Linked DNA regions of Homo sapiens. The protein of the gene in region 2 binds, or shares a complex with, the protein of the main gene of each other region. Each region holds a gene or a part of one and is shown on either strand. Other genes may lie near its edges. The genes, in order: EXOSC6, EXOSC7, EXOSC3 and EXOSC5.

Region 1 (8,780 bases), on a different chromosome or scaffold from region 2:
CCACCACGCCCGGCTGAAAAGAACATTCTTAATGTCATGGTTGAGACCCTCCAGGGTCTCCTGCAGGCCTCTGGCAGGCAGGGAGCAAGTAGGATGTGCAGAGAGTAGGATAGGGGCCTGGGGGATTGAGTTCAAGGCTTTTCTGCCCAGCTGAATTGGGCCTTCAAACGAGTCCCACTTTGCCTGATTACCTGTTTGCTCATACCCTTTAGACTACAGGAAACAGCTTTCAAAAACTTTATACCAAGGGTTGGGTATGTTGCCTCATGCCTTTAATCCCAGCACTTAGGGAGGCTGAGGCAGGCAGATCACTTGAGGTCAGGAGTTCAAGACCAGCCTGTGCAACATGGTGAAAACCTGTCTGTACTAAAAATACAAAAATTAGGAGTGGTGGCGGGCACCTGTATCCAAGCTACTTGGGTGGCTGAGGCAAGAGAATCATTTGAAACTGGGAGGCAGAGGTTGTGGTGAGCCAAGATCACACCATTGCACTCCAGCCTGAACAACAGAACAGGACTCTGTCTCAAAACAAACAAACAAAAAAAACTATACTATCTTCAAAGAATGAGGATGAATTAATGAACATTTGAGGTTCTCTGAACTGAGAAATAAAGCCTGTTTAAGGGGTTGTGGTAAGATTTTAAAAGTAATCCTCCAAAATTGTCACCTAGTGAGCAGAATACAAAAATGGAGCTTAAGTTCCACTACAAGACCAAAACTGTCACGTAGAGCCTAAGGGTAAGACTGTATTGGATATTAGGGACCACAAAGCACTTTCATGTTTACCTCATTTGATTTTCACAGCAACTGTGTGGGGAGAATCATCCCCATTTGAGAACTGAGAACACTCAGGCTCAGCGAGCTGGTGTCCCGCTTGGTGTCAGAATACTCTCAAGCCCAGGCTTTCCCTGACTGTCAACCCATTCCTGCTTCTCTTGTCCGCTAGTGTGACCCCCCAGCCAAGGGCTGCCAGGGCCTCTTTCACTATGGACTTTGTGTTCTGCCATTCAGGCACCTGCGGAACTCGAGTCATGCAGGAGCTTTTGTGATCGTGACGGAAGAAGCCATTGCCAAGGGTATCCGGAGGATTGTGGCTGTCACAGGTGCCGAGGCCCAGAAGGTGAGCAGGTCAGGCTGGTTTGTGGCTTATCTGAAGAAGGCAAGAGGAGCCCAGTCTGCGAATCCATAGAGCAAACACTGCTCTGCGTGGCTGCTGCAGTCAGAGTGAAAGTACAGGCTGGGCCACTCCCCCTGCCCCAGTGTCCTACCCCTGAGTGGCAGAAGAAACCTGCCACCACACAAGATCTCCTAGCTTTCCTATGTTTAGTCTTTTAAAATATATGTGAATCAGGCCGGACGCAGTGGCTCACGCCTGTAATCCCAGCACTTTGGGAGGCCGAGGCGGGTGGATCACTAGGTCAAGAGTTCGAGACCAGCCTGACCAACATACTGAAACCCTGTCTCTACTAAAAATACAAAAATTAGCTGGGTGTAGTGGCGCGCGTCTGTAATCCCAGCTACTTGGGAGGCTGGGGCAGGAGAATCACTTGAACCTGGGAGGCAGAGGTTGCAGTGAGCCGAGATCGCACCACTGCGTTCCAGCTTGGGTGACGGGGCGAGACTCCGTCTCCAAAAAAAAAAAAAAAAAAAAAATGTGAATCTGGCCATCTACCCCCTCCTGTCTCCATGTGGAGGAGGGTAAGACATAGATTCGCTGTGGCATCGGGGCCCCCAGCGCTGATCCATGTACTCCTAGGGGCGTGCTTAGTCTGAGGCCGTGCAGTAGAGGATGGGTGCTCTTTCATGGGAACTGGTGTGTCTGACTTGTGCTAAAGCCCCAGGGGTGGCCACTTCCTGGGGGAAGGGGCTCCTGATTCTCGAGCTTGATCACCCCTGAGTCTGAGTTGGGTGCAGCCTTTGCCAATGGGCCTGTGAGCACTGTGCTCCTTGCTGGGGCCTGGGGCTGCCAGCACCTACTCCCCACAGACACTTTTGGGGTGTTGGGGTATGTTGCTGCAAGGCCTACCGCCGGGGCTTCCGCAGCTGCTCAGACACAGGATAGTGAGTCTGACTCAGACCTCCTGCTTGGGGTTGACCCGGTGTCCCCTCCCAGGCCCTCAGGAAAGCAGAGAGCTTGAAGAAATGTCTCTCTGTCATGGAAGCCAAAGTGAAGGCTCAGACTGCTCCAAACAAGGATGTGCAGAGGGAGATCGCTGACCTTGGAGAGGTAGGGGCGGCTTCCCTCCCTCCGTCCTCAGGGCCTGGTGCATGAAACATGCCCCGTCTTCAGGAAATCATCTGTAGTCAGTCAGGCCCTGGTTCTTGGTGGAATGGGCCTTTGGGCTGACTTCTGTTGTCCTGTAGCCTTGTAGCAGGGACCCCATGGATCCTGTCCTTGGACCCTGGACATTCCCTGCTGCTCCCAGTGCTGCTAGCAGGAGAGCTCTTCCCAAGCATGTATGGGCACTGGGGTGGAGGGATTTGGGGAATGGGCTAAGGCTGGCCCCTGCTTCCAAGCCTGCCTGGTATTTATTTGCATTTCAAGCTGCCAGGAAGCTTATCACAGGCTGTTCCCAGCCTGGTAAGGACCGGGCCTGATTTGGGAGCCCAGCTTTCTGCTGCTCCTTTCTCTCTAGCCCTGCTTGTTTCACCTGCCACAGCTGCTCCTAAAGGGACTGGTCTCAAAGCTTTCCTTGCTTTCCTTTCCAGGACACTAGTCAGGGAGGACTTGGGTTCGGGTGGGGTGGGCTGGACCCTGACATCCCAGCAAGTTGTGGCCCAGATTGAGATGGTCGTCTATTGGTTCCAGGCCCTGGCCACTGCAGTCATCCCCCAGTGGCAGAAGGATGAATTGCGGGAGACTCTCAAATCCCTAAAGAAGGTCATGGATGACTTGGACCGAGCCAGCAAAGCCGATGTCCAGAAACGAGTGAGTCCTGGCAGCACCAGTGGCCAGAGTGTTTCCTAGGCAAAGGCTGGCAGAACAGCCAGGGGTTCGGGGCCTGGGCTTTTGGTCTGAGCTGCTGTTCTGGACTTTTTTCTTGCAGGTGTTAGAGAAGACGAAGCAGTTCATCGACAGCAACCCCAACCAGCCTCTTGTCATCCTGGAGATGGAGAGCGGCGCCTCAGCCAAGGCAACCCAGGGGCCAGGGTCCCCTCCCCTAGGGCTCATCAGCTCTCTGGTGGCTGACATGTGGCCTCTGTGGCTCTGAGCGAAGTGGTTGCCTAAGGGCCCACGGTCTGGGATTGAGATTGGGAGGAGCAGCAGCTCCCTGCATGTGGGAGGCATACCTGGGCCAGGGTAGGGGCAGGGCCCGGCGCTGGGGTCCTCCCCACAGGCCCTGGGCACAGCCCCTGCTCTGGGAAGGGGTAGGGGTGGGTGGCAGGCCTTCTGAGGGCTGCAAATGCTCACACTAGTGAGGGTCCCTGCTCCAGCACCGTGGCCTGAGCCAGGTCCTCCCCACAGGCCCTGAATGAAGCCTTGAAGCTCTTCAAGATGCACTCCCCTCAGACTTCTGCCATGCTCTTCACGGTGGACAATGAGGCTGGCAAGATCACGTGCCTGTGTCAAGTTCCCCAGGTCAGCACCACCTCGCACCAGTGGGAAGTGTTAGGTCTTAAGGTTGTTGGCTGAGGCCTGTGTGTGTACAGCCTGCATTCGAAACAGCCTTTCTGCCCACCGGTTGGTTACCTTTGCCAGTACCCCTTACCCAGGCCTTCTTATTGGTGAAGACATCTGGTTGATACCTGGCTTTGCCACTCTGTCCTGTCCTGGCAGTGGCCATGGCCGCCCCCTGTACCAGCCGTAAAGTCTGTCTCGGCCTCCAGCAGTATCACCCAGGGCAAGGAGTGGGTGATGGCTCCTCCATCCTTTCTTTCCCTGCATTCCTCCCTCAATCCCATCTTCTGTGCTGACTCCCCCTTCCCTTCCTGTCTTCTAGAATGCAGCCAATCGGGGCTTAAAAGCCAGCGAGTGGGTGCAGCAGGTGTCAGGCTTGATGGACGGTAAAGGTGGTGGCAAGGATGTGTCTGCACAGGCCACAGGCAAGAACGTTGGCTGCCTGCAGGAGGCGCTGCAGCTGGCCACTTCCTTCGCCCAGCTGCGCCTCGGGGATGTAAAGAACTGAGTGGGGAAGGAGGAGGCTCCCACTGGATCCATCCGTCCAGCCAAGAGCTCTTCATCTGCTACAAGAACATTTGAATCTTGGGACCTTTAAAGAGCCCCTCCTAACCCAGCAGTAACTGGAACACACTTGGGAGCAGTCCTATGTCTCAGTGCCCCTTAAATTTCTGCCCTGAGCCCTCCACGTCAGTGCCATCGGTCTAGAACCACTAACCCCGCATTGCTGTTGATCGTCACGCTCGCATCTATAGATAACGGCTCTCCAGACCTGAGCTTTCCGCGTCAGCAAGTAGGAATCGTTTTTGCTGCAGAGAATAAAAGGACCACGTGCAATACTTAATGCCGCATGATCTCTATCCCTCTTCCCAATAGGGGCTGGCTCTTTTGACAGCCTTTGGCGTCTGTAGAATAAATGCTGTGGCTCCTGCTGGCTGCTGTGGTGTTCACCTAGTCCAGCCCCAGAACCCAAAATTTTGGGAACAGCCCCTAGGGCTGCCTCAAACGTCTGTGGAGGTGGAGGCCAAATAGGTGGGGTGACTTGGAGCAAGGCGTTCATAATTCAGTAGATGAGGGGTGGAGGTAGTTGGAAGCAGAGAAGCCTTTCTTGGAGCTGCTCTCCCCCCTCCCTTCCAGCAAGATGGATGGATCCGGCTACCCTGCACAACTGGGACCGGGCCGTTCTCCCTCCGGGCCTCCAGGGGCGCTGTAGTGCCTCCCGCCGCTCTCTCGACAGCCCATGCGCAGCCGCGCGTCTTTAAACAACGGAAGAACCAGTGGATGCGGCAGGGCGTTGGGCGGAAGGGGTTCGCACGCCAAGAACCGCCATGCCTGGGGATCACCGCCGCATCCGCGGCCCTGAAGAATCGCAGCCGCCGCAGCTGTACGCGGCCGACGAGGAGGAGGCGCCCGGCACCCGCGACCCAACGCGGCTACGGCCCGTGTACGCGCGCGCCGGGCTGCTGAGCCAGGCCAAGGGCTCGGCCTACCTGGAGGCGGGAGGCACCAAGGTGCTGTGTGCCGTGTCGGGCCCGCGACAGGCCGAGGGCGGCGAGCGCGGCGGCGGCCCGGCCGGAGCAGGCGGCGAGGCCCCGGCCGCGCTGCGCGGTCGCCTGCTCTGCGACTTCCGCCGCGCACCCTTCGCGGGCCGCCGGCGCCGCGCTCCCCCGGGCGGCTGCGAGGAGCGTGAGCTGGCGCTGGCGCTGCAGGAGGCGCTGGAGCCGGCTGTGCGCCTGGGCCGCTACCCGCGCGCGCAGCTCGAGGTGTCGGCGCTGCTGCTGGAGGACGGTGGCTCGGCCCTGGCCGCCGCGCTCACCGCCGCCGCGCTCGCCCTGGCCGACGCGGGCGTGGAGATGTACGACCTGGTGGTGGGCTGCGGCCTCAGCCTCGCGCCGGGGCCCGCGCCCACCTGGCTCCTGGACCCCACGCGGCTCGAGGAAGAGCGCGCCGCCGCCGGCCTCACCGTGGCGCTCATGCCTGTGCTGAATCAGGTGGCCGGGCTGCTGGGCAGCGGCGAGGGCGGCCTGACAGAGAGCTGGGCGGAGGCCGTACGCCTGGGCCTCGAGGGCTGCCAGCGCCTCTACCCCGTGCTGCAGCAGAGCCTGGTGCGGGCCGCCCGCCGCAGGGGCGCCGCCGCCCAGCCCTGAACCAGAAGCCTGAGCAACTACGGACGCAAGCCGAGGACCGTGCTGCCGCCGTCCACGAAAAGACCCGCGCCATCGGCCTCCAGTTTGCGTCGAGAATTCCTGGAAGGGCCCTGATATGACTGTGGTTGGACTGACCTGACTGCCAGATGGTGGGACTTGGTCTGGAGCAGGGACTACTTGGAATGATAAAGGCAAAACTCAACAGCCCCTGGAGCTGCGCTTGTGGTGGAGCTGGACCCTGAAATTACCTGGACCTTTTTTTTAGAGACAGGGTTTCTTTCTGCAGTCTCAAACTCCTAGCCTTGATTGATCCTCCTGCCTTGGCCTCCCAAAGTGCTGGGACTACAGGTGCATGCAACCACACCTGGCTAATTTTCTTTTCTTCTTTCTTTCTTTTTTTTTTTTTTTTTTTTTTGATGGAGTCTTGTTCTGTTGCCCAGGCTGGAGTGCAATGGTGCAATCTTGGCTCACTGCAACCTCTGCCTCCTGGGTTCAATCCATTCTCCTGCCTCAGCCTCCCAAGTAGCTGGGATTACAGGCACATGCCTCCATACCGGGCTAATTTTTGTATTTTTAGTAGAGATGGGGTTTCGCCATGTGGGCCAGGCTGTTCTCGAATGCCTGACCTCAGGTGATCCACCCGCCTTGGCCTCCCAAAGTGCTGGAATTACAGGTGTGAGCCACTGTGCCCAGCTGAGTAAATTTCTTGATTGCACAGAATGTACGGTGATATTGGCGGACTTAAGGACATCGAATTGTTTATCAGGAATAAAGTATTATGTGTGTTTTCTGCGGCCCTGGATAATGCTGTAGCATTCAGGGTCGATTGAGTAAAAAAAATGTAGAGATGGTTTCCTGTTTGTTTTTGCTTCTAGTTTTCATTCATTTGCTATTTATTCTCTTCTGGCTTTGCTTGTGTATGCATATATATAAAACCATTATTATTATTATTATTATTTTTAGTTTCTAGTGGAAGGCTTTTATTTGGTTCTGTGAATAGTCATTTTGTTTCCTAAGAACTTCCAGCAAGTTGTATTCATTCCATTCATCTAGAATTCCTAGGCTGCCTTTGTCGGGCCTGCAGGTATTAATGGAGAATAGCAGCTTTTTATTTTTTTATATTTATTTTTTGAGACAGAGTCTCACTCTGTTGCCCAGGCTGGAGTGCAATGGCGCGATCTCAGCTCACTGCAACCTCCGCCTCAGAGGTTCAAGTGATTCTCCTGCCTCAGCCTCTGGAATAGCTGGGACTACAGGCACCTGCCACCACACCCAGCTAACTTTTTGTATTTTTAGAGAAGATGGGGTTTCATCATGTTGGCCAAGCTGGTCTCAAACTCCTGATCTCAGTGATCCATCTGCCTCAGCCTCCCAAAGTTATAAGATTTTTTTCCTCTGGTTTTTAGTAAATGTTTTTTTTGAGATTGCTTAGCACCAGAATGATTTGCAAATTTGAAAATAGGAACTCCACTAGGAATGCCGGATAGAAGAGTGCTTCACATTTGTAGAGGGAGACAAGAACTAAATATCACGACGTCTTTCTGAGCCTTTTGGTTTGCTAACGTGCCCCAAATTCTTATTCCAAACGGTATAAGATAATTATGTGTAAATGAATACCAGCTCTACTTAGTTTTATTTCATATTTGTGTATCTGAATATATTAAAATATCTTTTTTTTTTTTTTGATGCGGAGTCTTGCTCTGTTGTCCAGCCTGGAGTGCAGTGGCATGATCTCGGCTCACTGCAACCTCTGCCTCCCAGGTTCAAGCGATTCTCCTGCCTCAGCCTCCTAAGTAGCTGGTATTACAGGAGTGTGCCATTAGCCTGGCTAATTTTTGTATTTTTAGTAGAGATGGATTTTCATTGTGTTGGCCATGCTGGTCTTGAACTCCTGACCTCAAGTGATCCTCCTGCCTTGGCCTCCCAAAGTACTGTGATTACTATCATGAGCCACCACACCTGGCCTAAAAGATCATTGATTTAGTTTTGAGTAAGATTTTAAGTGATTAAATTATGGTATTGTTGTGTCTGGAATATCTGATATTAGGGTTTTTTTTTTTTTTTTTTACAGTTTTTGATATGCTTTATTTTGGGTATGTAGTTTACAAAATATAAAGGAAATATAAGGAGTGTTCTCTTTTTTTTTTAAATAAAAAGTGTATTTTTAACTGGGCATGGTGGCTCACTCCTGTAACCCCAGCACTGTGGGAGGCTGAGGCTGGTGAATCGCCTGAGTCCAGGAGTTTGAGACCAGCCTGGGCAACAAGGTGAAACCCTGTTTCTATCAAAAAAAAAAAAAAAAAAAAAAAAGGAAAAAAAATAAGTCAGGCATGGTGGTATGCACCTGTAGTCCCAGCTACTTGAAGGCTGAGGCAGGAGGATCGCTTGTGCCTGGGAGGTTGAAGCTACAGTGAGCTATGGTCAAGCTACTGCACTCCATTATAGGCAACCCTATCTCAAAAAAGCAAAGCAAAACAAAACATTTTTCCCCTTGATTATAGAGGTTTGAGAAAAATTTGAGGGAAGATTCAGAAAATTACCTGTAACTGAACAGAATGCCACCAGCTTGGGCTTATTCTGCATGCATAATTATGAACATTTTCCCAGCTCTTGTGAAAATTCTCACATTCATAGAAAGATAGATGCACCAGTAAAATAAATACCTGTAAATACGATAATAATTTCATAATAATATGCTTCACCTAGATTTACCAGTTACTAATATTTTGCCAGTTTTATTTTCTCACACACTTTTGTTGAGCATCTGAAAACCATACACATGATGACAGTTCAACCCATAATGTTTTAGTTTGCATCTCCCAAGAATAAGGTTTTTCTTCTGTATAACAAGAATATTGTAATCATACCTAAGAAAATGAATTTTATTACATATGTGTTCTATATTCAAATTTCTGTAATTACCCCTAAGATGTCTTTTAAATGATTTTTAGCATTGATAGTCTGTGCCTGTGTAGATTATAACATTGGCTATTGCAAAATAATGGTTTTCTTTT
Region 2 (9,266 bases):
AGCAAAATATATCAAGTATAATGAAGTGGTAAATGAAAGAAGTCTTAAAAACCCCAATTTAAACATGGTCATTTTTCAATATTCAAATATTTGCATATCCAGGATCCATTCTGAGTTTAAAAACCTGGCAAGATACTCACTTGAGGGCAAAATGAGACTTAGGTTAACTGACTTGTTCAAAGTCATAAAGCAAGTTAATAGCAAAGCCCAAATCTTTGGACTAAGATGCCCGGAAGTCTTTCTACCATAGATTGTTATCTTCCTAAACAACCTGTCTTTCTAGATTCTCTGCTACTATTTCTTGGTTTAGAAACATACACTTCACATACTGAAGACTTTACTGCAACAGGACTGTGGCCAGAACTGTACTTGTCTCATTAGGCTTACCTTGCTAAGGTAAGAAAGTGATCTCACTCAAAGGCATTGCATCTCCACTGACCTTGAATAGGAAATACATATTCATATCTTGCCAAGAGTTCAAGTGCCAAGTCAATACATACTACGAAGTCTATGGTTTGGAGGAGACTATGAAATGATGACATTTCCCATGCATTCCAAATGTATTAGGATGTATGACTGAATTAAGTGGGACATGCACCTGGAGCCTTCTCACCTTCACAGTTGACAGCCATGAATGAACTGGCCATTTGTCTCTGGAAATCTGCTTCCGAGGAGGAAAGCAAATGATTTTTTAAAATGCAAAACAGGAAGGAACTAAAGGCAGCATGGCATGAGCCTCATTTTTTCCCCAACAGGTCAACACTGAGACATCACCCCTCCACTTCTACTTGAGACTTTGTTACTTTCCATGGCTATCAGGGTGTGTGTGTTTAAATATTTCTACATTTGGTAAGCAGGATCTGTTACCCCCTTTTCTCAAATATGCCCTAATGAGACATAGGAAACATGCTGTCACTCTCCCAAAATGAAACACACATGAAGACTGTATAACTTTTCCTCTAATTAAGAGTAAGCTTTACCCATGTATTACTAGCAATTTTTCTATCACTGTAATCTCAAGTTACAATGTCTAGAAGACAGATGAAGACCTGCTGGCCAGACTATGACAGTATTCTTTACAGATATTCTTCATTTCTATCATTATTTTATTACTTATTTTATTATTTTTTAGCGATGGGGTCTATGTTGCCCAGGCTGGACTCAAACTCCGGGGCTTAAGGGATCCTCCCACCTCATTCTTTTAAGACAAGGTACAGGCGGGACAAATGCAAAGTGTTTAAAGGAAACAGATCTACAGGCAAAACGGTAACTGACTTTGTACATTTCAAGGGTGCTGGGCTAATGGTGAAAATGCAAAGGAAAAGGCCTAAAACATGGCCATGTCTGCTTAGGACTGGGAACAGAAGGTTTCCTGCTGGGCTTTTAAGAGCTCTCTATGGCTGGGCATGGTGGCTCATGCCCATAATCACAGCACTTTGGGAGGCCAAGGCAGGCAGATCTCTTGAGGCCAGGAGTTCGAGACCAGCCTGACCAACATGGCCAAACCCAGTCTCTACCAAAAATACAAAAATTAGCCGGGAGTGGTGGCACACACTTGTAATCCCAGCTACTCGGGAGGCTGAGGCACAAGAATTGCTTGAACCCAGGAGGCGGAGGTTGCGGTGAGCAGAGATTGTGCCACCGCACTCCAGCCTAGACAACAGAGCAAGACTCTGTCTCCAAAAAAGCTCTCTGCAACATCAGCACCACAGACTCAGCATTGCCCTGAAGCTCTTTTGTAACTGGCTTTTATTGGTTTAATTAACCAAGGATGGGTGGGACAGAGTTACTCCATCTCTGTCATGTTATTGTTGCCGGCTTGTGGCTAGCAGCAGCTCTTTACCTTTTGTATTTGATACCTGGCCTGCACAATTAGCACCTTATTATAGGCTGGCCTCTCTTCTAATTGCCACGTCTCAATTGAGCACTTTATTTTATTGTCTTGTTCATGCAGTAGTTCGAGGTCCTGGGCTCCCCCACTATAATAAATTCTAAACTACTTTTAGGCAGGTGTTGTGTTTTGAGTTTATCTCTTTATGCCCATAAGAACACCAGGGACTCACAGGCATGCAAACACACTGTCTGGAGTTTCTAGATATCTGAGTATGGCATACGGTTGGAATCTGGGTCTCCATGCATGCTACTCAACCCTAGTACCAGATCTATCAGCCATCTTTGCCATTGAGGGCTCTCTCCTTAGCTACTTGGAGTTAAGCTCTTATTCTGCTCATATATAACCTTTTACCTTGTTTAAAATATTGGGTTGCAACAGACACAGCAACATCCCATCAGCACCACATTCCATGTTCCTCTAGAAAAATGATTCAAGGGATATGAGTTTATGCTTGAACAGACTTCTTGCTTTTGGAATTAAGATTAACTATATAGTTCATAGGACAGTTACCAACGCCATAACAAAATTGGGATTTCCTTCACCAAATAATCTGGTGAATGTAATAAAACCTGGGGGGAGGCTGTGTAAGGTGATGGTTAGGAGTATGGGCAGGAGAGCTAGACTGCCTGGTCTCAAGTCCTGGTTCTGCCATTTACCAATGATGTAACCTGTGACCCTGGTTAAGGCATTTAACCTCTCTGTGCCTCATTTCCCAATCTGTAAAATAGGGATAAGAATACTTGCATCACAGGGCTGTTGCAAGGATTGAATCAGTTATTTTTTATTTTTATTTTTTTTTGAGATGGAGTTTCGCTCTTGTTGCCCAGGCTGGAGTGCAATGGCGTGATCTCAGCTCACTAAAACCTCCGCCTCCTGGGTTCAAGCGATTCTCCTGCCTCAGCCTCCCGAGTAGCTGGGATTGCAGGCATGCGCCACCATGCCCGGCTGATTTTGTATTTTTAGTAAAGATGGGGTTTCTCCATGTTGGTCAGGCTGGTCTCAAACTCCCAACCTCAGGTGATCCACCGGCCTCGGCCTCCCAAAGTGCTGGGATTACAGATGTCAGCCACCGCACCTAGCCTGGTTAATCTTTATAAAGTGCTTAGAACAATGCTTGGCATACAATAAGCACTATGTAAATTAGTGTTGAAAATTAGAGTATAAGGTTTTAGAATACACAAACCTACAGAATAGTATGCCCCAATTCATTTATTCATTCAATAAATGAATCTAATAGTGATGGAAAAACAAGACGGTTTAATACTGTGCCATCCTTGACTTCTTGATTTTTTTGGTTATCATATGTTCTTTGAATTACTTCAATACACTAAAAAAGAACTCAGAATTTATGGATTTTAAAGACGTCCAATGCACTATTACAGCAAAGGTGATAAAAATGTTCTGGCAGCATTTAAGCCGAATGATTAGTGAAGACTGTCATTGTTTTAGTAGACAATTTAAAAAGGAACATTCTACTGTTTACATCTCTCTTACCTACTTAGCCTAATATATAAGACATCGTTCATAACATTATTTAGCAAATACTGCAGACCCTTGTCCAGTATGGAATTCCCGTCAATTGTGAGGGGGGGACAGTTCAAATACATGTTCTATATTTTAAGACATTGGAAAATCTTTATATAAAGATAACTCCATGGTATCTGAACTCAGGCTTTTCTTCCTGTGTCTTTCTGATCTGTCCATTTGCTGTCACCTCTTAAATCCTCAGTCTCCTCAGATATCCTAGCTTCTAAAATCCCACTTCCAGGGTCTCTCCTTTCTGAGCAATCTCTAGCACATCTAGAAAATATCATTTATAACATCAGCAATCTCATGTTATCTTATCACAACAGAGCTCCTCACATAAAACCCAGCCGTCCAACCACACACAAACACATCTAAGTGCCACAACAGGTGGGGCACCTGTGCCTTCATTAGGGAGGAAATCCTTCCGGCTTCACCTCTTTCAGTTTCCCTGGAAGGCAAAGTCCAACCCTGCAAGCTGTCTTCCTTTTAGGTGCCCCTGTGGAGAATTACGTAGAGACATAAGAAACATCTAATGTCCAGTCTACGAAGAACTGATCATCAATTTTGGAGCTCAGCAGTTTAATGCTTAAGAATGTGAGCAAGCACTTCCTCTCTATAACCTTATCAGACGACCTCCCAATCCCACTGTGCCCACTGATGCGACCATCATAGCTCTAACCACCATGATCTGTGGTTATGTTGGCCCTGGAGCCTTCATCTGCCCAGGGAACTTCTCTGGGCATAGTATGTTTTACTTGTCTTGTGTTCTAAAGGTAGCACAAAGCCTATCTATAGTAGGCTCCCAATAGTTATCTGAAACTGTATTTGAACCCACTATCTGATAAATACCATTTTTTTTTTTTTTTGGCTGAGGGTCCTCAAAAATGGAACATCAGGAAAGTCATCAGAATTGCTTTAACCTGCCCTCCTTGCTTCAACTAATTTGGGTTAACTTTCTCCCATTTATCCACACGGCTCCTTTAAAACTTGCACCATACTTTGTCAGCCCCGCCTTAATGAGTTCCTTTGGTGACCCCAGCTTCACCTTGCAGATATCCTCTCCGGGTATCCAATGCCCATACTCCCACTCGGCCATCGCAAGGGGTTGGGGTTGGCTTTTTTTCGGGCAACTGCTCACAGCTCCCAGTAATCACTTCCATCAAGCCGGGGTTTCCAGTTCCCGCTAGGAAGCGTTGGGGACGTCCGGGCACTGCGCACCTCGCCAGTGCCGGTTACCAAGCGCCTCCTCCCCCGTCTGTGGGACAACGCTCTGGTAAGCACCCGAGGCAAGAGGTCCCAGCAAGGTAATGGGACAGCGTTCGGTCACAGAGAGTGAGCGAGCCAGCGAGAGATATTCCTGGGTGGAGGGGTGGGGACGCCTTAGGACTAGTGTCCCCCATTCCCGGACCCTTCCCACCAAGAACTACCTAGGGAGGGCTGCATCGCCTCTCCAGCCATCCTAGGGACTAGAGAAATGGAGGGGAGAAGAGCAGGGAAACAGCACCCCCGGGCCAATCACGACGTCCGCCCCTCCTTAGTCGGGGTCTCTCTCTCTCTCTCTCTCTCTCTCACACACACACACACACACACACACACACACACGCTCCTAAGTCAACTCCAGCTCTGAGCAACTACGCCGCACGCCTCTCCCACTGGGAGTCCCCCGGCCCGTGAGGCTCGCCTCACCCCAGCTTCTTCACCCCTACCCCAGTTTCCCTTCCCAACTGACCGTGAAGCCGGAGGCAGTTCCCCAGTCCCAGACCCCGGTGGGGCTCCCGCCGCCGCCGCCGCTGCCTTCCCCTGCAGTCCCCAACCCGGGACCCGGCCTCGGGCTTCGGCGATGGCTCCTCGGAACGAGGCGCCGCGGCTCTCTGGACTCGGCCAGACACCGGGCGGCGCGCAGGAGAAGCCCATCGAGCTCTCCCGGCAGTGGCGGCGGCCGCGGCTGCAGGAGCGGCCGCCGCGCAGGTTGATGACGCGCTGACGCGGGGCGGGGGGGGGTGGGACGTGGGGGCGCGGTCCAGAGGAGGGGACGCGCGCAGATGACGTGCGGCTCGTGGGGCAGCTCGGCAGCATGGCGTCCGTGACGCTGAGCGAGGCGGAGAAGGTGTACATCGTGCATGGCGTCCAGGTAGCTACAGCAGCGGCGTTGGGTCGGCCGCCGGGTTCAGCCTGGCCCTGCGGGTCGCGGCCTGCCCTGGGTTTGCCAGTGAGGAGGCAGCCGAGCTGCGGCGACTCTCCGTTTACCTTGTGATTAAACGGTTCTGCTGCCGGCGTTTGCAATTCAGAGCTGGCAACGTGGACGTTTTTAGGACTGTTAGCGCATTTGCAGTTTTGCGGGTCTATAAGATTCCGAACCCGGGCAGGAAGCTTGGGCAGTCTCGGAGGCCTTTTCTTAGTGAGAGAGCATCGGCCCCAGGGCCATCCATTCGGCGTTCGCGCACAGATCTTGTCCGAGCCTCAGTTTTCTCTTCGAGGAAATGGGAGTTTGGAGGTGGGCTTCTGGCCTGCTTTTCCTCACCTCGTGGTTAGGAGGGCGCATGCGAGGTGAACGCACTTTGAAAATACAAATTGCCGTACAAATAAAGGGGGAAGGGTTTTTAAAAAGCGGCTAGGACGCCTGTAATCCCAGCACTTTGGGAGGCCGAGGCGGGCGGATCACGAGGTCAAGAGACCGTCCTGACCAACATGGTGAAACCCCGTCTCTGCTAAAAATACAAAAAAATTTAGCTGGGCGTGGTGGCGCACGCCTGTAGTCCCAGCTACTCGGGAGACTGAGGCAGGAGAATCGCTTGAACCCGGGAGGCGGAGGTTGCAGTGAGCCGAGTCTCAAAAAAAAAGCGGCTAGGCAGCCGATAGCCTAAGTGCTGTTTCCATTTTGCCAATGAAGAACTAAGATCCCTAGGCAGCTATAACCTAATGTCCTCTGTGTTCTATATTAAATCCCTGGTTATGACCACTCCAGAACGAGGGTTGAAAAATGTTGGACCTGGTAACGAGCTACCCTGTATCCTCCTCCGGCTGTGTCTCCACTTGTTAACCTACGGTGTGGTCCTCCTATCAGAGTTCTTCATCCCATCCTTGGCAGAGTTCTGGCGACAGCTCCTACCTCTTTTCCTCATGCCTTTCCTCTGTCAGTACCAACTGCAAAGTCAGTGGTCCCGTGATGTAGCCATCGGATTGAAGCGGCCAGCTATCATTGAAGTCCCACAACGTGAGTTAAGGACATGTCCATTTAAAAATCGTGACCTGCCGTTATCTTCTGGGCCCTTTATATATGAAGAAATGCCAATATTTAGCATATTATGCCTGGATAATAAAGTCAGAACTCACAGTTGCATATTTTAGTTATAATTCAGGATTAACAACAGTGGGACATATGTGTGTATTACAGGGTAACATGTATGTTATTTGTGTGTGAGGGGGCATAAAAATGCCCAAAAGCAGTTAGATATGTCTTTCCCTGCTATATTTTTGTATACACTTTGTTCAGGTGATTTTTATCCTCAAAGTATTTTTTTAGGGACACATTACGGATAACCGTTTTCCTCTAAATTTAAAAACCTTTGGTCTTCTTTGTTACCGGAGCTTACCATGATGTAGTGACTCTGTCATGTGTCCTATTTTCTCTCAACATTTCATCCCTGAAAGTGGCACTGAGGCATGGATATATCTGTAACCTCAAGGTTAGAGCTTTCTCCCCAGCACCCTTAATTCCCACGGCAGTTCATTAGCTATCCAGCAGCAGAGTCCCACCATGGTCATTAGTTAATTTTATTTACCAACATATATCTAGCTCCTGGCATGTTATGTGGGAAACAGCAGGGATGCCAAAACATGGTTGTGAAATAAATGAAAGATAGGAGGGAGACAAACAGAGAGTAAAAGTGAATAAAATAAAAACAAAGGTAATGTAAGATCTATGCCAAGGAAGTGGTATAGTTAGTGGAGGTTGAAGTTAAAGTATACCAGGGGCCGGGCATTGTGGCTCACGCCTGTAATCCCAGCACTTTGAAAGGCTGAGATGGGAGGATTGCTTGAGCCTAGGAGTTTGAGACCAGCTTGGGCAACACAGTGAGAGCCCATCTCTAAAGAAATAATTTTTTTTTAATAAATAAAAAGAATTCCAGGGACTTGTAATGCTCTGAAGGCTTCCCTAAGGAGGTGGAATTGCTCCCCTAAATCCATGTCAAGGATTCCTCCTCTGTATCTTCAGGACTCAGTATTCATTCATTCAACACAGAACTGAGCTAGACTCAGGGGCTAGGAAGGAACCTGTCCTTATATAGCTCTCATGCTAGAAGGAAGATGCAGAAACTATAAATGTACTTGAGTGTTTATATATAAAATTGTACTGAATGCTATGAAGGAAAAAACGGACACGATCTAGACTGGGAGGTCAGAGGAGGCTTCCCTAAGGAAATAGCATTTGAACTGAGTTCTCAGCATGACTGAGAATTAAGTAGGCACCAGTGTTCCAGAAGGAAGGGGTGGTGAGTCTGTAAATCCTCAGGTGGAGGACATGTGGAGCCCAAGGGGTGGGCTGGGGGAAATGGTGGAAGATCAGCTTGCAGAGGTGGCCAGAAGCACGATCCTAGAGGTCTTAGAGGTTCAGTCATTCGCTCATCATGGATCTTGGAAGGCAATAGCCTGTTGACTTGTCTGTATGGGGGACCCTTAAGGCATAGCCAGTGTCTAGCACTTGGTAGGTTCTTAGTAGCATTGAATGGGTGATGTAAGCTTTAAAGGGGGAATGAGTTGGATGGTGTTTTTATTTTTTAAATTAAACCTCCCTCTCACCAGTACCATGGACATATTTGGGCACAGTTGTTGGTAAATGCTCAGCTCTGTGTATCACAGAGCCATGCAGAGTAATGGGCTTCAAATCAACGTCTTCATAAGGGCTTATTAATGTTGGCCCAAAATATGCCATATGTATAGAGGAGCAAAACACAATTTACACCATCCAAATAAAGGTCAGGATGCAGGTGAATGAGCCTACCATGGAATCTCAACTGATTCAGTTCTGAAATCTCCTAAACTTTTGTTGCGTTGGTTATAGAGTGCCGGCAGTGCACCTTAAGCAGTGCCTGCCTGAACTCCTGTTGCTTGTATAGTCCTAGTCATTTTGTGTTTTACTTTTCACCTTTGGTCCAGTAACGTCCATTTCAGCTTCTGATGTCACTTTCCCTTCAGCCTTTGGTTCTTTTACTATTTCAGGGAATATTTCATCTTGTTTTGGTGATAGTTAGAAGCAGTTGAAATTAACCTCACGATGTGTTGAGGATTCAGTTGCTAGTAATGGTAACCAACACATCGGCTCAAGCAAAACAGTATGGATTACAAGGCTGCAAGTGTTTCTCCAGGAATCCTAATCTCTGCTGGTTTTTTTTTTCCCCCTCTTTGCTTTGTTTTTGTCTCCCTACAGATTGGTTTTCTATTTCTTGGGCCAGTGGTAGAAAAAATGTGGTTCCTTCCCAGTTCCTCTGTAAAAGAGACCATTCCTTCTCGTTCAGTTCTGAACTCATGTTTCCAAGAGAAAGAAACTCTAGTTCTTTTAGGGGGTTGAGGGAAAGGATGGACAGAATAATTAGGCTCAAACATGGCCACTAGAGGATGTGTCACACTTGGGAGAAGTCAGTTTGTGAGAAGGGAGGGTGGATCATTTTAGTTATTGGCAGAAAATGGAACCCTCTTCAGGTAGTTCAGGAGACTTTTATGATGGGACTCTAGAGCAGTATGGGGGGGGTTTCAGGGAACCAATAAGAGATGTTGAGGAGCCCCAAGACAACTACTGGGAGTGGCTACTGCCCCTATTCCAAAGGGGCCAGGGGAGGAAACAGTA
Region 3 (4,336 bases), on a different chromosome or scaffold from region 2:
GCTGTGGACGAGCCAATGGAATGGGTGTCATTGGACAGGATGGTCTGCTTTTTAAAGTGACTCTGGGCTTAATTAGAAAGTAAGTCCTGATGTCTGCTGGCTTGACTGCTTTTTATAATTATACATTCTTGGAAAGTTGGTTAATCTTCAGGATTCAGATTCTTTGTAACGTTTGAATTTCTCCTCAGAGTTAGAAATCAGTATCCATTTTAACACATTTGGAAACTCATGAATTTAATCCTATCTTCTTGGAAACATATCAAATTCAGATGTGTTTGGCTGTGTAGTTTCTGGTGGGCTGATACTTCATGCCTTAAGCTCTTACTCTGTATTCATATCTTCCTTCCCAGGCCTGTTGCTTATTTGACTTAGCCCAAATGTGAAAACTGGCCTTTCCCCTGTTCTGAGTCACTTGAATACAGATGCAGTCTGCAGTTGTATAAAATTATCAATTTTTTCTAATTATGGGGGTCACACGCAGCTTAGATTGTGATGTTCAAGGTTATGTAGACATTCACAGAAGGCTTCTGACACTTGGTCATACTGAGGCATACTGAGGTTCATGCTGAGGCAGATTCTCTTTTTGGTGTTTAGAACTTTACCCACCCAAAGCTGTGCCATATTCAGGGGCTTTACTCCTAGAGCCAGTGAAGTTGAGAGCTATCTTGTATGCCTCTCCTTACTACATATCCTAAAGATCTGGAGAATTAAGTTTGGACATCAGAGAAGCATGTTTTTAACCAAGAAGCATGTTATTAACCAAGCACCACCCTTATGGTTTGAAAGAGCCAATGTTCCTCTCCAAGTACTGAATTTAACACAAGAGAATAATATGGCCAGGAAAATAAGTTTAAAGTGTCTTAACACTGTAGATAAAAAAAGTTATGATTCCCAGTCTAGAATTAAAGTGCTCTGACCATCTAGGGGAATGACTTTTACAAAGTTGGTAACCTAGGGAGTTTGATTTCTTTGTAAGGCATAGCCCACCTCTGTGATTTCTAGTATACCTTTGAACAGTGTAAAGTTCCTTCTTGGAAGAAAGGAGGCAGCAAATGTCATCACGTGCCTTGTTCTTGTTGAACAGCTATGGAGAACTGCTCAGAAAAGGAATCACATTCTAAAGGAGACTCCGGACACACCTTTGCCACTTCATTAAATTTCATTTTCTTTTCTCTTCCCACCAGGCTATTAGCTCCAGATTGTGAAATCATACAGGAAGTGGGAAAACTCTATCCACTGGAGATAGTATTTGGAATGAATGGAAGAATATGGGTTAAGGCAAAAACCATCCAGCAGACTTTAATTTTGGCAAACATTTTAGAAGCTTGTGAACACATGACGTCAGATCAAAGAAAACAGATCTTCTCCAGATTGGCAGAAAGTTGATATAGGTGGACTTTTTTACAGGTCAGTTGAGGCAAAAAACTATGGGTTTTTTCAGGTGAACCTCCCCCATTTAAATACTCAGAAGATAAGGTGTGAATGTATGTATTATTAGAGTCCGAAAGTATTTTTATAAGTTACTGGTTTTCACCCACGCTTTTGTGGGAGAGAAAATCATTGCAAAATCATTTTTTTTGTTCGGTACAATAAAGTTTACTAAAAAACAGTATTAGGGTTTATTTGGAGTTAACTCCCTTAGTAATTGCTACAGCTTCCATAATTAACTGGAGGTCAGCAGTAAAATAATTTTGTGATTATAACAGTAAGCCAGGTTCACCAGAGGAAATGTGGAATACCTAAGTATAAAGCAGCAAAGAAATGTCACCTGTAGTCCCATTATTCAGCGGGTGAGTATATAACAACGAAATACTTTTTCATTTACCAAGTATTGTGTTTTGCATGGATTAACTCCTTTATTCTAACTGCAGAAGACACTTATCCTCATAATTGAAACTGAGGCACAGAATTTAACTTGGCCTACATTCTCTATATTCATCAAATTGAAATTATAGTTATTATAGCTTATATGCCACTTTGTAATATACTTTTGTCTACTTCAAACAGCATGATACATTTCACAACTTTAGTCACATATTTCATGTTACAGGATATTTTTGAGTTTTATCATTATATAAATAACACTATGAGGATTTCTGAATCCAAATCTGGCCAAGTCTTATTTTGCTAAAATCATTTCCTAGGAGCTAAGCATAGAAAACTCTTCTATGCTATTTAGTATATTAACCAAAACCTTTAGAGGTAAAGAGACTGCCAGGTGATCCACATCAGTGATTCTTGGTTTCTAGACCTCTGAGAATATGTGAGATACAGATCCCCTGAAGCCTATCCATAGAAAGTCCTTTTTGGATCAAAGAGATTATAGAACTCTATTTGTTGATAAAGACCAAGGAGCTTCGTGTGTTTCTAATGTTTTCTAAGGACTGGATGGTTTTTAGTTCAATAGCTTTTAGGGGTACAAGTGGTTTTGGATTACACGGATGAATTGTATAGTGGTGAAGTCTGAGATTTTGGTGTACCAGTCACCTGAGTACTATATATTGTACCCAGTATGTAGTTTATCCTTCCCCCTTCCCTGTTCCGGGTCTCCAGTATCTGTTATACCACTCTGTGTGCTTACCTGTAGCTTAGCTCCCACTTAAAGTGGGAACATTTGGTATTTGGTTTTCCATTCCTGAGTTACTTCACTAAGAATAATAGCTTCCAATACTATCCAAGTTGCTGCAAAAGACATTTTTTATGGCTAATATTCCATGGGATATATATACCACACTTTATCCATTCATTGGTTGATGGGTACTTAGGTTGGTCCCATATCTTTTATTATGAACTGTCTAGCCAGTTTTTAAATAGAAAAGTACTGATTAGGTGAACAGTTCCTTAGGAATTAAATTGTGAAGGGGAGGGGACACAGCAGAGAAGTAATCTGTTGGTTCTTTTGAGATATTGAATACATGTCCCAAATTTGCTAGCTGCTTAACTAGCAAGTTAACCCAAACTGTCAGAGTAACTGAAGCAAATATGTCCAACTGGGACATAAGGAACATGAGATTTGTGTAATAAGTAGGTTATCTAACGTGTTCATGTGTCTAACACTTTCTAGCTATTTTCAAGACAGACTTAATCAATACTGTGTTTGCTTTCCAATTTAATCTGTTACAAATACATATGAAGAATCTAGTTGGTACAGGCTCAGGGAGGATAGAAAGATAGGTACACAGATTTGTCCTGTTAGGATCCTACCATTAGGAAGGATTAGGAAGAGAAGCCCTCCATGCCCATACTCTGCAAGGGAGAACAAGGTAAGAGCCACAGGAGGGAACAAAATGCTATGGGGACTCAGTAGGGATAGGTCAGAACAGGCTGGATCCTGCAAAGCTTATTACTGAGCTGGGCAACAACGAGCATGATCAGACAAGGCTGGAGAAAGTCATACAATTTTATGATGCCAGTTTAGTGAATATTAAACTCTTGATGTAACCATTTAAACAATTTCAAGAGGTCTCTCACAAATAGATGTACAAAAGTTGAATTAGCACGTCCAAAGCCATGTGGTTTTGAGGCTAATTCCTTGTTACATAATTTTTTTTTTTTTTCCCCTCGAGACAAGAGTCTGGCTCTGTCGCCCAGGCTGGATCTTGGCTCACTACAACCTCCGCCGCCCGGGTTCAGGCGATTCTCCTGCCTCAGCCTCCTGAGTAGCTGAGACTACAGGCACGCACCACCATGCCCAGCTAATTTTTGTATTTTTAGTAGAGACGAGGTTTCACCATATTAGCCAGGCTGGTCTGGAACTCCTGACCTTGTAATCCACTCACCTCAGCCTCCCAAAGTGCTGGGATTACAGGCGTGAGCCACTGCACCCACCACATTAACTTTTTATTACTTAACATATCTGAGCACTTCCTGTGAGCCAGGCACTATGGGAGATTAAAAAGCATTAAATGTGGTCCCTGACATTATTGTGAAGCTCTGAGAAGATGTCATGCAAAGACACTTGCCTATGTGCCACTGCCACCCTCTGCCCTGCTCTTTGGGTCAAGGTACCTCCAAGCGCCTCACTCCTGCAGCTGCATTTTTTTTTATTTATTTTTTTTTTGAGATGGAGTCTTGCTCTGTCACCCAGGCTGGAGTGCACTGGTGAAATCTCGGCTCACTGCAACCTTCGCCTCCCGAGTTCAAGTGATTCTCCTGCCTCAGCCTCCCAAGTAGCTGGGACTACAGGTATGCGCCACCACACCTGGCTAATTTTTGTATTTTCAGTAGAGAAGGGTTTCACCATGTTGGCCAGGCTGGTCGTGAACTCCTGACCTCAGGTGATCTGCCCACTTCGGTCTACCAAAGTGTTGGCATTACGGCGTGAGCACCTGGCCAC
Region 4 (9,078 bases), on a different chromosome or scaffold from region 2:
CGGCCACACATGGTGGCTCACGCCTGTAACCCCAGCACTTTGGGAGGCTGAGGTGGGTGGATCAGTTGAGGCCAGGAGTTCGAGACCAGCCTGGCCAACATGGCAAAACCCTGTCTCTATTAAAAATATAAAAATTAGCCGGACACGGTGGCACACACCTGTAGTCCCAGCTACTCGAGAGGGGGAGGCAGGACAATCGCTTAACCCAGGAGGCAGAGGTTGCAGTGAGCAGAAATCACGCCACTGCACTCCAGCCTGGGTAACAGAGCAAGACTCCGTCTCAAAAAAATATAAAACAAAATAAGCCAATACTGGACTAAGAAGAATGTTGCAAGACTTGAATCTAAGCTCCATCCTTTCTCCTCCTGGCAGCCTGGTACCATGAAAAGAAACTGGGTTTTGGAGTCCAGAGCTCCAAGTTCAGACCTCACCTCTCTGAGCCTCAGTCTCTCCATCTGTAATAGGAGAGTACTACCAATAAAGGCCTTGCACTATTGGTGTATTAAATATAATAAAAAATTAGAGTTGGATTTGTAAACCATTCAGTGCCTCAAGATGTGAAAAAGGAGGCCAGGTTTCTTAACACACTAGCAAGTAAGAGATGGACCCATACACTTAGAAGACTGTAATGACCATCTCCATTCATCCCACAATACACACTGACATGGTTTGTCTCTGTCCCCACTCAAATCTCATCTTGAATTATAGCTCCCATAATTCCCACATGTTGTGGGAAGGAGCCAGTGGGAGGTAATTGAATTATGGGGGTGGATCTTTCACGTGCTGTTCTCATTATACTGAATAAGTCTCACGAGATCTGATGGTTTTATAAAGGGGAGTTCCCCTGCAAGCACTCTGTCTGCCTGCCACCATGTAAGATGTGACTTTGCTCCTCATTTGCCTTCCGCCATGTTTGTGAGGCTTCCCCAGCCATGTGGAACTGTGAGTCCATTAAGCCTCTTTTTCTTTATAAATTACCCAGTCTTGGGTGTGTTTTTATTAGCAGCCTGAAAACGGACTAATACATACACTGAGTACCTACCACTTGGAGATACTGCACAGGGCACTGGAACCCCCAGACAGGCTGCCCCTGAAGAGCTGGGTCACAGAAATAGTCACCGATAATTAGCACAGAGCGAGCTCCAGGGGCTTCCTGACTTCCAACAGGGTAGGGACTCTATTCACCCCACTAGCTAGGGTCAGAGAGGTGAAATGACTTAGCCAAGCCCAGGCCTGGGGTAGTGGCTGAGAAACTGACTCACAATTCCTTGACAATCTGAGTTTCCTTCCTCCTCCTTTCCCTGAGCACTAAAACGTCTGCTATGATAACAGAGACAGGAAGGGAGGTGAAAATCAGGCAAACACATCTGCAGGGCAGCAGGGTATTCAATGAAGGAGTGGGCAGAGCAGGGGCAAGAAGTCGGGGACAAGTAAAGCAGCCCCACTCCTCCTTCTAATCCAATCTTCCCCAGTGAACCCAGTAATCCAATCTGTCTACAATATGCAGCCTCTCAACCTTTCCCTGACTATTTCTTCATCTCCACCTGGATAAAACTGCATCATCTTAGCCAGGCATGGTGGCTCACACCTGTAATCCCAGCACTCTGGGAGGCCGAGGTGGGTGGGTCGCCTGAGGTCGGGAGTTCAAGACCAGCCTGATCAACATGGAGAAACCCTGTCTCTACTAAAAATACAAAATTAGCCAGGCATGGTGGTGCATGCCTGTAATCCCAGCTACTCGGGAGGCTGAGGCAGGAGAATCGCTTGAACCCAGGAAGAGGAGGTTGTGGTGAGCCAAGATCATGCCATTGCACTCCAGCCTAGGCAATGAGAGCAAAACTCCACCTCGAAAAAACAAAAAACAAAACAAAACAAAAACCCTGCACCATCTAATGTGGCAGCCACCAACCACTTGTGGCTATCTTATTTTGAGACAGAGGGCTGCTCTGTCACCTAGGCTGGGGTATAGTGGTGCGATCTCGGCTCACTGCAATCTCCGCCTCCCAGGTTCAAGCGATTCTTCTGCCTCAGCCTCCCAAGTAGCTGGGACTACAGGCACACGCCATTACGCCCAGCTAATTTTTTTGTATTTTTAGTAGAGATGGGGTTTCACCATGTTGGCCAGGCTGGTCTTGAACTCCTGGCCTCAGGCAACCCGCCCACCTTGGCCTCTCAAAATGCTGGGATTACAGGCATGAGCCACCGCACCCAGCCCACTTGTGGCTACTTAAACTTAAACTCATGATAATTTAATAATATGGCCAGGCAAGGTGGCTCACGCTTGTCATCCTGCACTTTGGGAGGCTGAGGCAGGAAGATCGCTTGAGTCCAGGAGTTCAAGACCAGCCTGGAAAACATGGCAAAACCCCATCTCTACAAAGATTTAAAAATTAGCCAGGCGCAGCCAGGCACAGTGGCTTATGCCTGTAATCCCAGCACTTTGGGAGGCCGAGGCGGGCAGATCACCTTAGATCAGGAGTTCAAGACCAGCCTGGTCAACATGGTGAAACCCCATCTCTACTAAAAATACAAAAATTAACTGGGTATGGTGGCGCACGCCAGTAGTCCCAGCTATTTGGGAGGCTGAGGCAGGAGAATCACTTGAACCTGGGAAGTGGAGGTTGCAGTGAGCCGAGATCGTGCCACTGCACTCCAGCTTGGGTGACAGAGCAAGACTCCGTCTCAAAAAAAAAAAAAAAAATTAAAAATTAGCCAGGCGTAGTAGCACGTGCCTGTGGTCCCAGCTACTTAGGAGGTGGAGGTGGGGGGATTGCTTGAGCCCAGGAGGTTGAGGCTGCAGTGAGCCATGATCACACCACTGCACTCACTCCAGCCTGGGTGACAGAGTGAGACCTTGTCTCAAAAAAAGAAAAGGCTAGGCGCAGTGGCTCATGCTTTTGGAGGCCAAGACAGGCGGAACTTGAGGCCAGAAGTTCGAGACCAGCCTGGACAACATGGTGAAACCTCGTCCCTACCAAAAATACAAAAATTAGCCAGGCGTGATAGTGCATGCCTGTAATCCCAGCTACTAGGGAGGCTGAGGCAGGAGAATTGCTTGAACTCGGCAGGCAGAGATTGCAGTAAGTCAAGATCATGCTGCTGCACTCCAGCCTAGGCGAGAGAGTGAAACTCTGTCTCAAAAAAGAAAAAAAAAGAAAAAGGAAAGAGAGGTACAGAAAGAAAGAGAGAGAGAAAAGAGAAGAGAAAAGGAAAGGAAAGGAAAGGGAAAAAGAAAAGAAAAGAAAAAGGAGAGGGGAGGAGAGGAGAGGAGAAGGAGAGGAAAGAAAGAAGAAGAGAGAAAGAACAGGTGGGAGAAATAAAGGGGAAAAAACAATAACTCTTAAGATAATACAAATTTAAATATATATAAATAAAAAGTAGGGACTTCTTCCCTCCCCACTCCCCACCAAAAATGAAGTAGGGGAAGCAAGAGGAAAGGTAATCAAGAGATTGAGACAGGAGAGAAAGATTTAATCAGCCATAAATGACCTTTCCCTAGCCTGCCCCAGTCCTGCCCACCTCCTGCCCCACTTGCCCAGCCAATGGGCCCCTGGGACTGAGATCAGCTGTGGAGGATATGAACTGCTCAAAAAAAAAAAAAAAAAAAAAAGTGAAAAGGTCTCCAGCCCAAAGGCAAGAGACTGCCCTACCCACACCTTGCTCCTGCAGCCCTTCTGTATTTACCTGTTTCAAGTGACTCCGTTCCTAGATACCTACTACGTCCTACTCCTGGCCCATCTTCTTCACCCTCCTCCCGTTTGTTCCCCTACCCAGAGCTTCTTTCTACAGATTCCATCTTCCCCTCCTTATGGATTGGGGATCAGAGGATCAGACTCAACCTCACAATATCTTTTCAGATTTTTTTCCCCAGGGCCTCACCAATCCAGGCCTTCCCAAGGTCACCCCTTTCTTCTCCCCATCTCCAAGGTTAGTTTCTGTCCCTTCCCTCCACCCTCACTATCAACATTCCTATTGCCCTTAGGATGTGCCAGGTCCAGTCCTTAGCATTTTACATATTGATTTTTCACAGCCCTATGAGGTGGCCACTGTTAATATTTTAGAGAGGAAAATTAGCTCCATAGATCCAGAGAAGTGCAGTCCGTTGGCCAAGGCTACACAAGTGGAAAGCGGCAGAGCAAGGACATGCATCCACCCATGTAACCACTACTCTCCTATCTGTCAACTGTAGTTCAAAGCTCTTCTGCAACCCATTGCCTCTCCCCGTCTAAAGATAGGCTTCCACCTAGGTTTTTTGCAGTGTAATCTTGCCCTTAGCAGCATCCACCTGAAGGGATTGTGACCCTTTTGACAAGAAACAAAGCCTTCTCAAGTGTTTCTAAGAAATGTGGGCAAAGTGCCCTGTCTGTACCTCTCTCCCTCCTTTTTTCCCCTCATTAATTCAACAAATATTAATCGTCTCCTCTGTACAGTGTCCAGAACACACGAATTCTCTGTCTTGATATTCGATCAAGAGACACAGGAATCAAACAAATTTTTTACACAATTCATTTTAAAATCAGAATTGTGGCAAAGGAGCAAAGAAATACAAGGCCCTATGCAGCCTGTGACAGGGACCTGTTCTCTTCTTTCTTCTTCTTGAAGAGGGATCTTTGCCCAGAAGAAAGTCCCTCCCTTACAAAGTCAGTTTCATTCTCCAAACCCTGAGGGAGAAGGTCTTGCGGTCTTCCCCTGTTCCTCCAAGGAGCCTCCCCTGAATACCAGTGGCAGCTAATAAGGAACCCCCATCTCTCTCTTCAAGTCGTCTCCCTCAGGGCCCACAAAGAAGTTGCAAACGGGTTTTTTCCTCTCCTAAAGAAGTGGAAGTTCTTTTCGTCTCCTAAGGAAGTGGCAGATCTTCCCTTCGGTGTCTTCTCCAAGGAGTCTCCCACTCTTTTTCCCTTTTGTGACAGCCCTTCCTTCATATCCTTCAGGGACCCCACACTCTGAAGATAGCCTTTACATCCCTAATCCCCTTTGGGAAAACCGCCTGGGGCCCAGGTACTCACAGATCTAGCCAGTCCCCGAGCCCCAGGCTGCCGCAGCAGCAGGAGGGCAGCCTGGCTCAAACCACGGTTTAGCCGCCAGACCCTCGCTGCAGCGATCGCTACCGCCATCTTGGCTAACAACCACTCAGCGGTCCGGCACTCACGTAGGCTAGATTCGGGGCTGCCTCTTTATGTGCCTGACGCAAACTCCAGCACCATCTGACAAGAAAACCATCTTCTTCCCGTTCTGTGGTAGATAGAATGCACAGAGATTTGGAGAAAAAAAAATCTATCTACCCAAAATTTTCTCCAATCGCCTCATTGTAGTTACTCCTGTAACAGGCAAAGAAGAGGGCAACCTGACCAGGGCCTCAGGGATTTAGGGCCCGGGGGCCCAGAGTAAAGCGGATCAATGCCAAGGCCTGCCTTCTGTTCCCAAATGTCCAATGGCGTTGCCAGAGTTAGGAGGTGGGACTGGGCGGAGCCAGATTGTTGGTAAACGCTAAGCCACGTGCGGACGCCCAGGAGGATGGCCCAGCCCGGCGCGTGCGCACTGGTTACGCAGCCTGTTTGCGGCGCGCGCTGCCAGGCGGAAGTGACAACTGCAGCCGCACGTGGGCTCGGCGCGATGGAGGAGGAGACGCATACTGACGCCAAAATCCGTGCTGAAAATGGAACAGGGTCCAGCCCTCGGGGTCCTGGCTGCAGCCTCCGGCACTTTGCCTGCGAACAGAACCTGCTGTCGCGGCCAGATGGCTCTGCTTCCTTCCTGCAAGGTAAGAACTTCACCCAGGTCTTTCTTTTGGAGAGGGACTACCGTGTACTGTGCAACCGAGTGCCCACCTCCTCACGATACCAGCTGGTAAATGTCACTCCTGCGTTGATGCATGATTTCTTGTCCGATTGAATACTACTAAATACGCAGGGATACACACATCTCTCCCTCACGACTAGAAAGGAGAAGATAGTTCCATCTTTGTAACTATCTCTGAGAATGAGAGGAGGGGCAGACTGTCCGCCCAAGAATTGATATTTCAGAATAGGGAAAATCACCTCGCCAGGGTAAATATCCCCCTTAACTCGATTCCTCCTCCACCCTCCCACCCCCACCCCCCACACACACACCCTCTAGGTCCTTGCATCCCGGACTGAAGCAAACCTGTCTATTTGCATACTGTGGACTGTGGCGGATCTTTCACCCACGTAAATACTCCTCAAATTGAAGATAATGTCATTGCGCTGGGTTGAGAAATACATCCCCACCGCTACCTCACTGCATCTCTCCACACAAGTAAATATCCCTAAGATTAGGGCAAGTCAAAAAAAAAAAAAAAAAAAAGATTAGGGCAAGTCTTACCTATAGAGCAAATATCCCCTTTTCCTAGCTAAATAACTCTCAGAAGTAGATTAACTCCAAGAATATTTCTCTTTAACGTTTGAGACGGGAGGCCGGGGGCGGTGGCTCACGCCTGTAATCCCCACACTTTGGGAGGCCAAGACCTGTGGCTCACCTGAGGTCAGGAGTTCGAGACCAGCCTGGCCAACATGGCGAAACCCTGTCTCTACTAAAAATACAAAAACTAGCCAGGCATGGTGGCGGGCGCCTGTAATCCCAGCTACTCGGGAGGCTGAGGCAGGACAATCACTTGAACCTGGGAGGCAGAAGTTGCAGTGGGCCGAGATCGTGCCATTGTACTCCAGCGTGAGCGACAAAGCAAGACTCTGTCTCAAAAAAAAAAAAAATTGAGACAGCGTCTCACGATGTCACCCAGGTTGGTCTTGAACTCCTGGGCTCAAGCAATCCTCCTCCCAAAGTGCTCATACAGGTATGAGCCACCACGCCCAGCCCCAATACATTTTAACAAAATTTGGCTGCTGTGTTGATTGTGGGGAGTATGGGGGAAAACAGGGAGGTGATGGTGGCTCCAGCCAGAGCAGGAGTAGTGGAGGTGATGAGATTCTGGATGTAGTTTGAAAGTAATACGGACAAAACTTACGTATAGTTTGGTTTGAGTGCGAGGAAAAAGATTCAGGCATAACTAAGGTTTCTGCCCAGATCTGTACAAGTCTGGAAATCAGAAGAGAGACCCAAGCTGGACATAGGCAATTTGGAACTCTCTGGCTATATAGATGGTATTTCAGGCTATTGCCTGAACGAAGTGAGTGTAGATGGAAAAGAGAAGAGGTCCCAGGACCAAGCCCTAGGCCTTCCAACTTGAGCAGTCAGAGACATGTGACAAGCTAGCAAAGGAGACTCAGAAGGAACGCCCAGAGAGTTAGGGGGAAACCAGGAGATGGTGGTGACCTGGGGCCAAGAAAAGAGCATGTCTGAGATGTGAGGGCTGACCAGCTGTTTCAGCCTTACTGACAGCCGGGTCATGGGAGGGTTGATCATTTGGAGGTCAGTGGTGACGATGTTGAGCTGCCGCAATGGAGTGGTGGGGTCACAGAAAAGGAAGAAGAGGCAGCTGTTCAGGAGTTCTGCTGTAAGAGGATCAGATAAGTGGGGCAGGAGTTGTAGATTGTTGTGGGGTCAACAGGGGAGAGAATTGCTGGAGCCACGTCTTCAAGAAGGTGAGAGGGGAGAGACTCTTGTGCTCGGGCAAAACACAGGCAGTTCATCTGGAGCCAGAGGCAAGTTCTGTTTTGGTAACTTCTCCAGTCCTCAGGGCAGTTTCTCCTGGAACTAAGCATACCTTCCGTGTAAGGGCAAATTGGGCTTCCCAGGAAATACGGCCTTAACCAAGGACCTTCCCAGGCCCTCCCTCAGGCTTAGCGCTTATGCTGAATTGAGATACCTAAAGTTTCTTCGAACGTAAGAATTAAGAAGAGGCCGGGTGCAGTTGCTCACAGCGGTAATCCCAGCACTTTGGGAGGCCTCTGAGGTCAGGAGTTCTTTTTTTTTTTTTCTTTTTTTTTTTTTGAGATGGAGTCTCGCCCTGTCGCCCAGGCTGGAGTGCAGTGAAGTGATCGTGGCTCACTGCACCCTCCACCTCCCGGGTTCAAGCAATTCTTCTGCCTCAGCCTCCTGAGTAGCTGGGACCACAGGTGCGTGCCACCGCGCCCGGCTAATTTTTGTGGTTTTTAGTAGAGACGGGGTTTCACCATGTTGGCCAGGCTGATCTTGAACTCCTGACCCTGTGATCCACCTGCCTCAGCCTCCCACAGTGCTGGGATTACAGGCGTGAGCCACCTCGCTTGGTTGAGGTCAGGAGTTCTGAGACCAGATTGGCCAACATGGTGAAAACCCATCTCTACTAAAAATACAAAAATTAGTCGGATGTGGTAGCACGCACCTGTAATCTCAGCTACTCTGGAGGTTGAGGTACAAGAATCACTTGAGCCTGGGAGGCGGAGGTTGCAGTGAACTGAGATTGCGCCACTGCACTCCAGCCTCCTGGGTGACAGAGGGAAACTCTGTCCCAAAAAAGAAAATAGAGACAGGAGTCTTCCTATGCTGCTCAGGCTGGTCTCAAACTCCTGGCCTCAAGCAGTCCTCCCACCTGGGCCTCCATAGTGCTGGGATTACAGGTGTGAGCCACCATGCCTGGCCTAAAATGTATTTTTTTTTTTTTATTGAGACTAAGCCTTGCTGTTATTGTCCAGGCTGGAGTGCAATGGTGTGATCTCGGCTCACTGCAACCTCCGCCTCCCCGGTTCCAGCAATTCTCCTGCGTCGGCCTCCCAAGTAGCTGAGATTACAGGCACCCACCACTATGCCCAGCTAATTTTTGTATCTTTAGTAGAGATAGGGTTTCACCATGTTGACTAGGATGGTCTCAAACTCCTGACCTCAGGTGATCCACCCACCTCAGCCTCCCAAAGTGCTGGGATTACAGCAGACAGTACTAGAAGCCAGGCTGTTTATTTCTTAGGTTTTACCTCCTGTACCCCGTTCATAGCTTCTGGGGAAATAAGGAATCAGGATTCATTCCAGATATTATCCCTTTCTCAGGTGTCCAGACTGATGCAAAATTTGGGGGCCAGTGCCTAAGGGAAGAGCTGGGCTGGGGAAGCTTTGGAAAGAGAAGTTGAGAGCAGCTGCAGTAAGAGGGAGGATGGTTAGCTTTCAGGAAGAACTTCCTGTTAAAAG

What was found.
Region 1: EXOSC7 (region 2) and EXOSC6 share a complex: the UniProt entries of both Homo sapiens proteins name them as parts of the RNA exosome core complex.
Region 3: EXOSC7 (region 2) and EXOSC3 share a complex: the UniProt entries of both Homo sapiens proteins name them as parts of the RNA exosome core complex.
Region 4: EXOSC7 (region 2) and EXOSC5 share a complex: the UniProt entries of both Homo sapiens proteins name them as parts of the RNA exosome core complex.

Annotation. Positions count from the first base shown.
Region 1 is NC_000016.10:70,248,068-70,256,847, reverse strand, and holds the start of EXOSC6 (exosome complex component MTR3), read left to right. Parts: upstream 1-4,907; 5' UTR 4,908-4,947; coding exon 4,948-5,766; 3' UTR 5,767-8,780. Other genes in the region: AARS1 (alanine--tRNA ligase, cytoplasmic), read left to right, coding at 1,012-1,120, 2,114-2,227, 2,810-2,929, 3,048-3,134, 3,467-3,580, 3,942-4,127. UniProt on the Homo sapiens protein: Non-catalytic component of the RNA exosome complex which has 3'->5' exoribonuclease activity and participates in a multitude of cellular RNA processing and degradation events.
Region 2 is NC_000003.12:44,970,783-44,980,048, forward strand, and holds the start of EXOSC7 (exosome complex component RRP42), read left to right. Parts: upstream 1-5,461; 5' UTR 5,462-5,495; coding exon 5,496-5,552; intron 5,553-9,266. UniProt on the Homo sapiens protein: Non-catalytic component of the RNA exosome complex which has 3'->5' exoribonuclease activity and participates in a multitude of cellular RNA processing and degradation events.
Region 3 is NC_000009.12:37,777,729-37,782,064, reverse strand, and holds the end of EXOSC3 (exosome complex component RRP40), read left to right. Parts: coding exon 1-79; intron 80-1,184; coding exon 1,185-1,386; 3' UTR 1,387-2,351; downstream 2,352-4,336. UniProt on the Homo sapiens protein: Non-catalytic component of the RNA exosome complex which has 3'->5' exoribonuclease activity and participates in a multitude of cellular RNA processing and degradation events.
Region 4 is NC_000019.10:41,393,864-41,402,941, reverse strand, and holds the start of EXOSC5 (exosome complex component RRP46), read left to right. Parts: upstream 1-5,582; 5' UTR 5,583-5,613; coding exon 5,614-5,761; intron 5,762-9,078. Other genes in the region: BCKDHA (2-oxoisovalerate dehydrogenase subunit alpha, mitochondrial isoform 1 precursor), read right to left, coding at 5,007-5,114. UniProt on the Homo sapiens protein: Non-catalytic component of the RNA exosome complex which has 3'->5' exoribonuclease activity and participates in a multitude of cellular RNA processing and degradation events.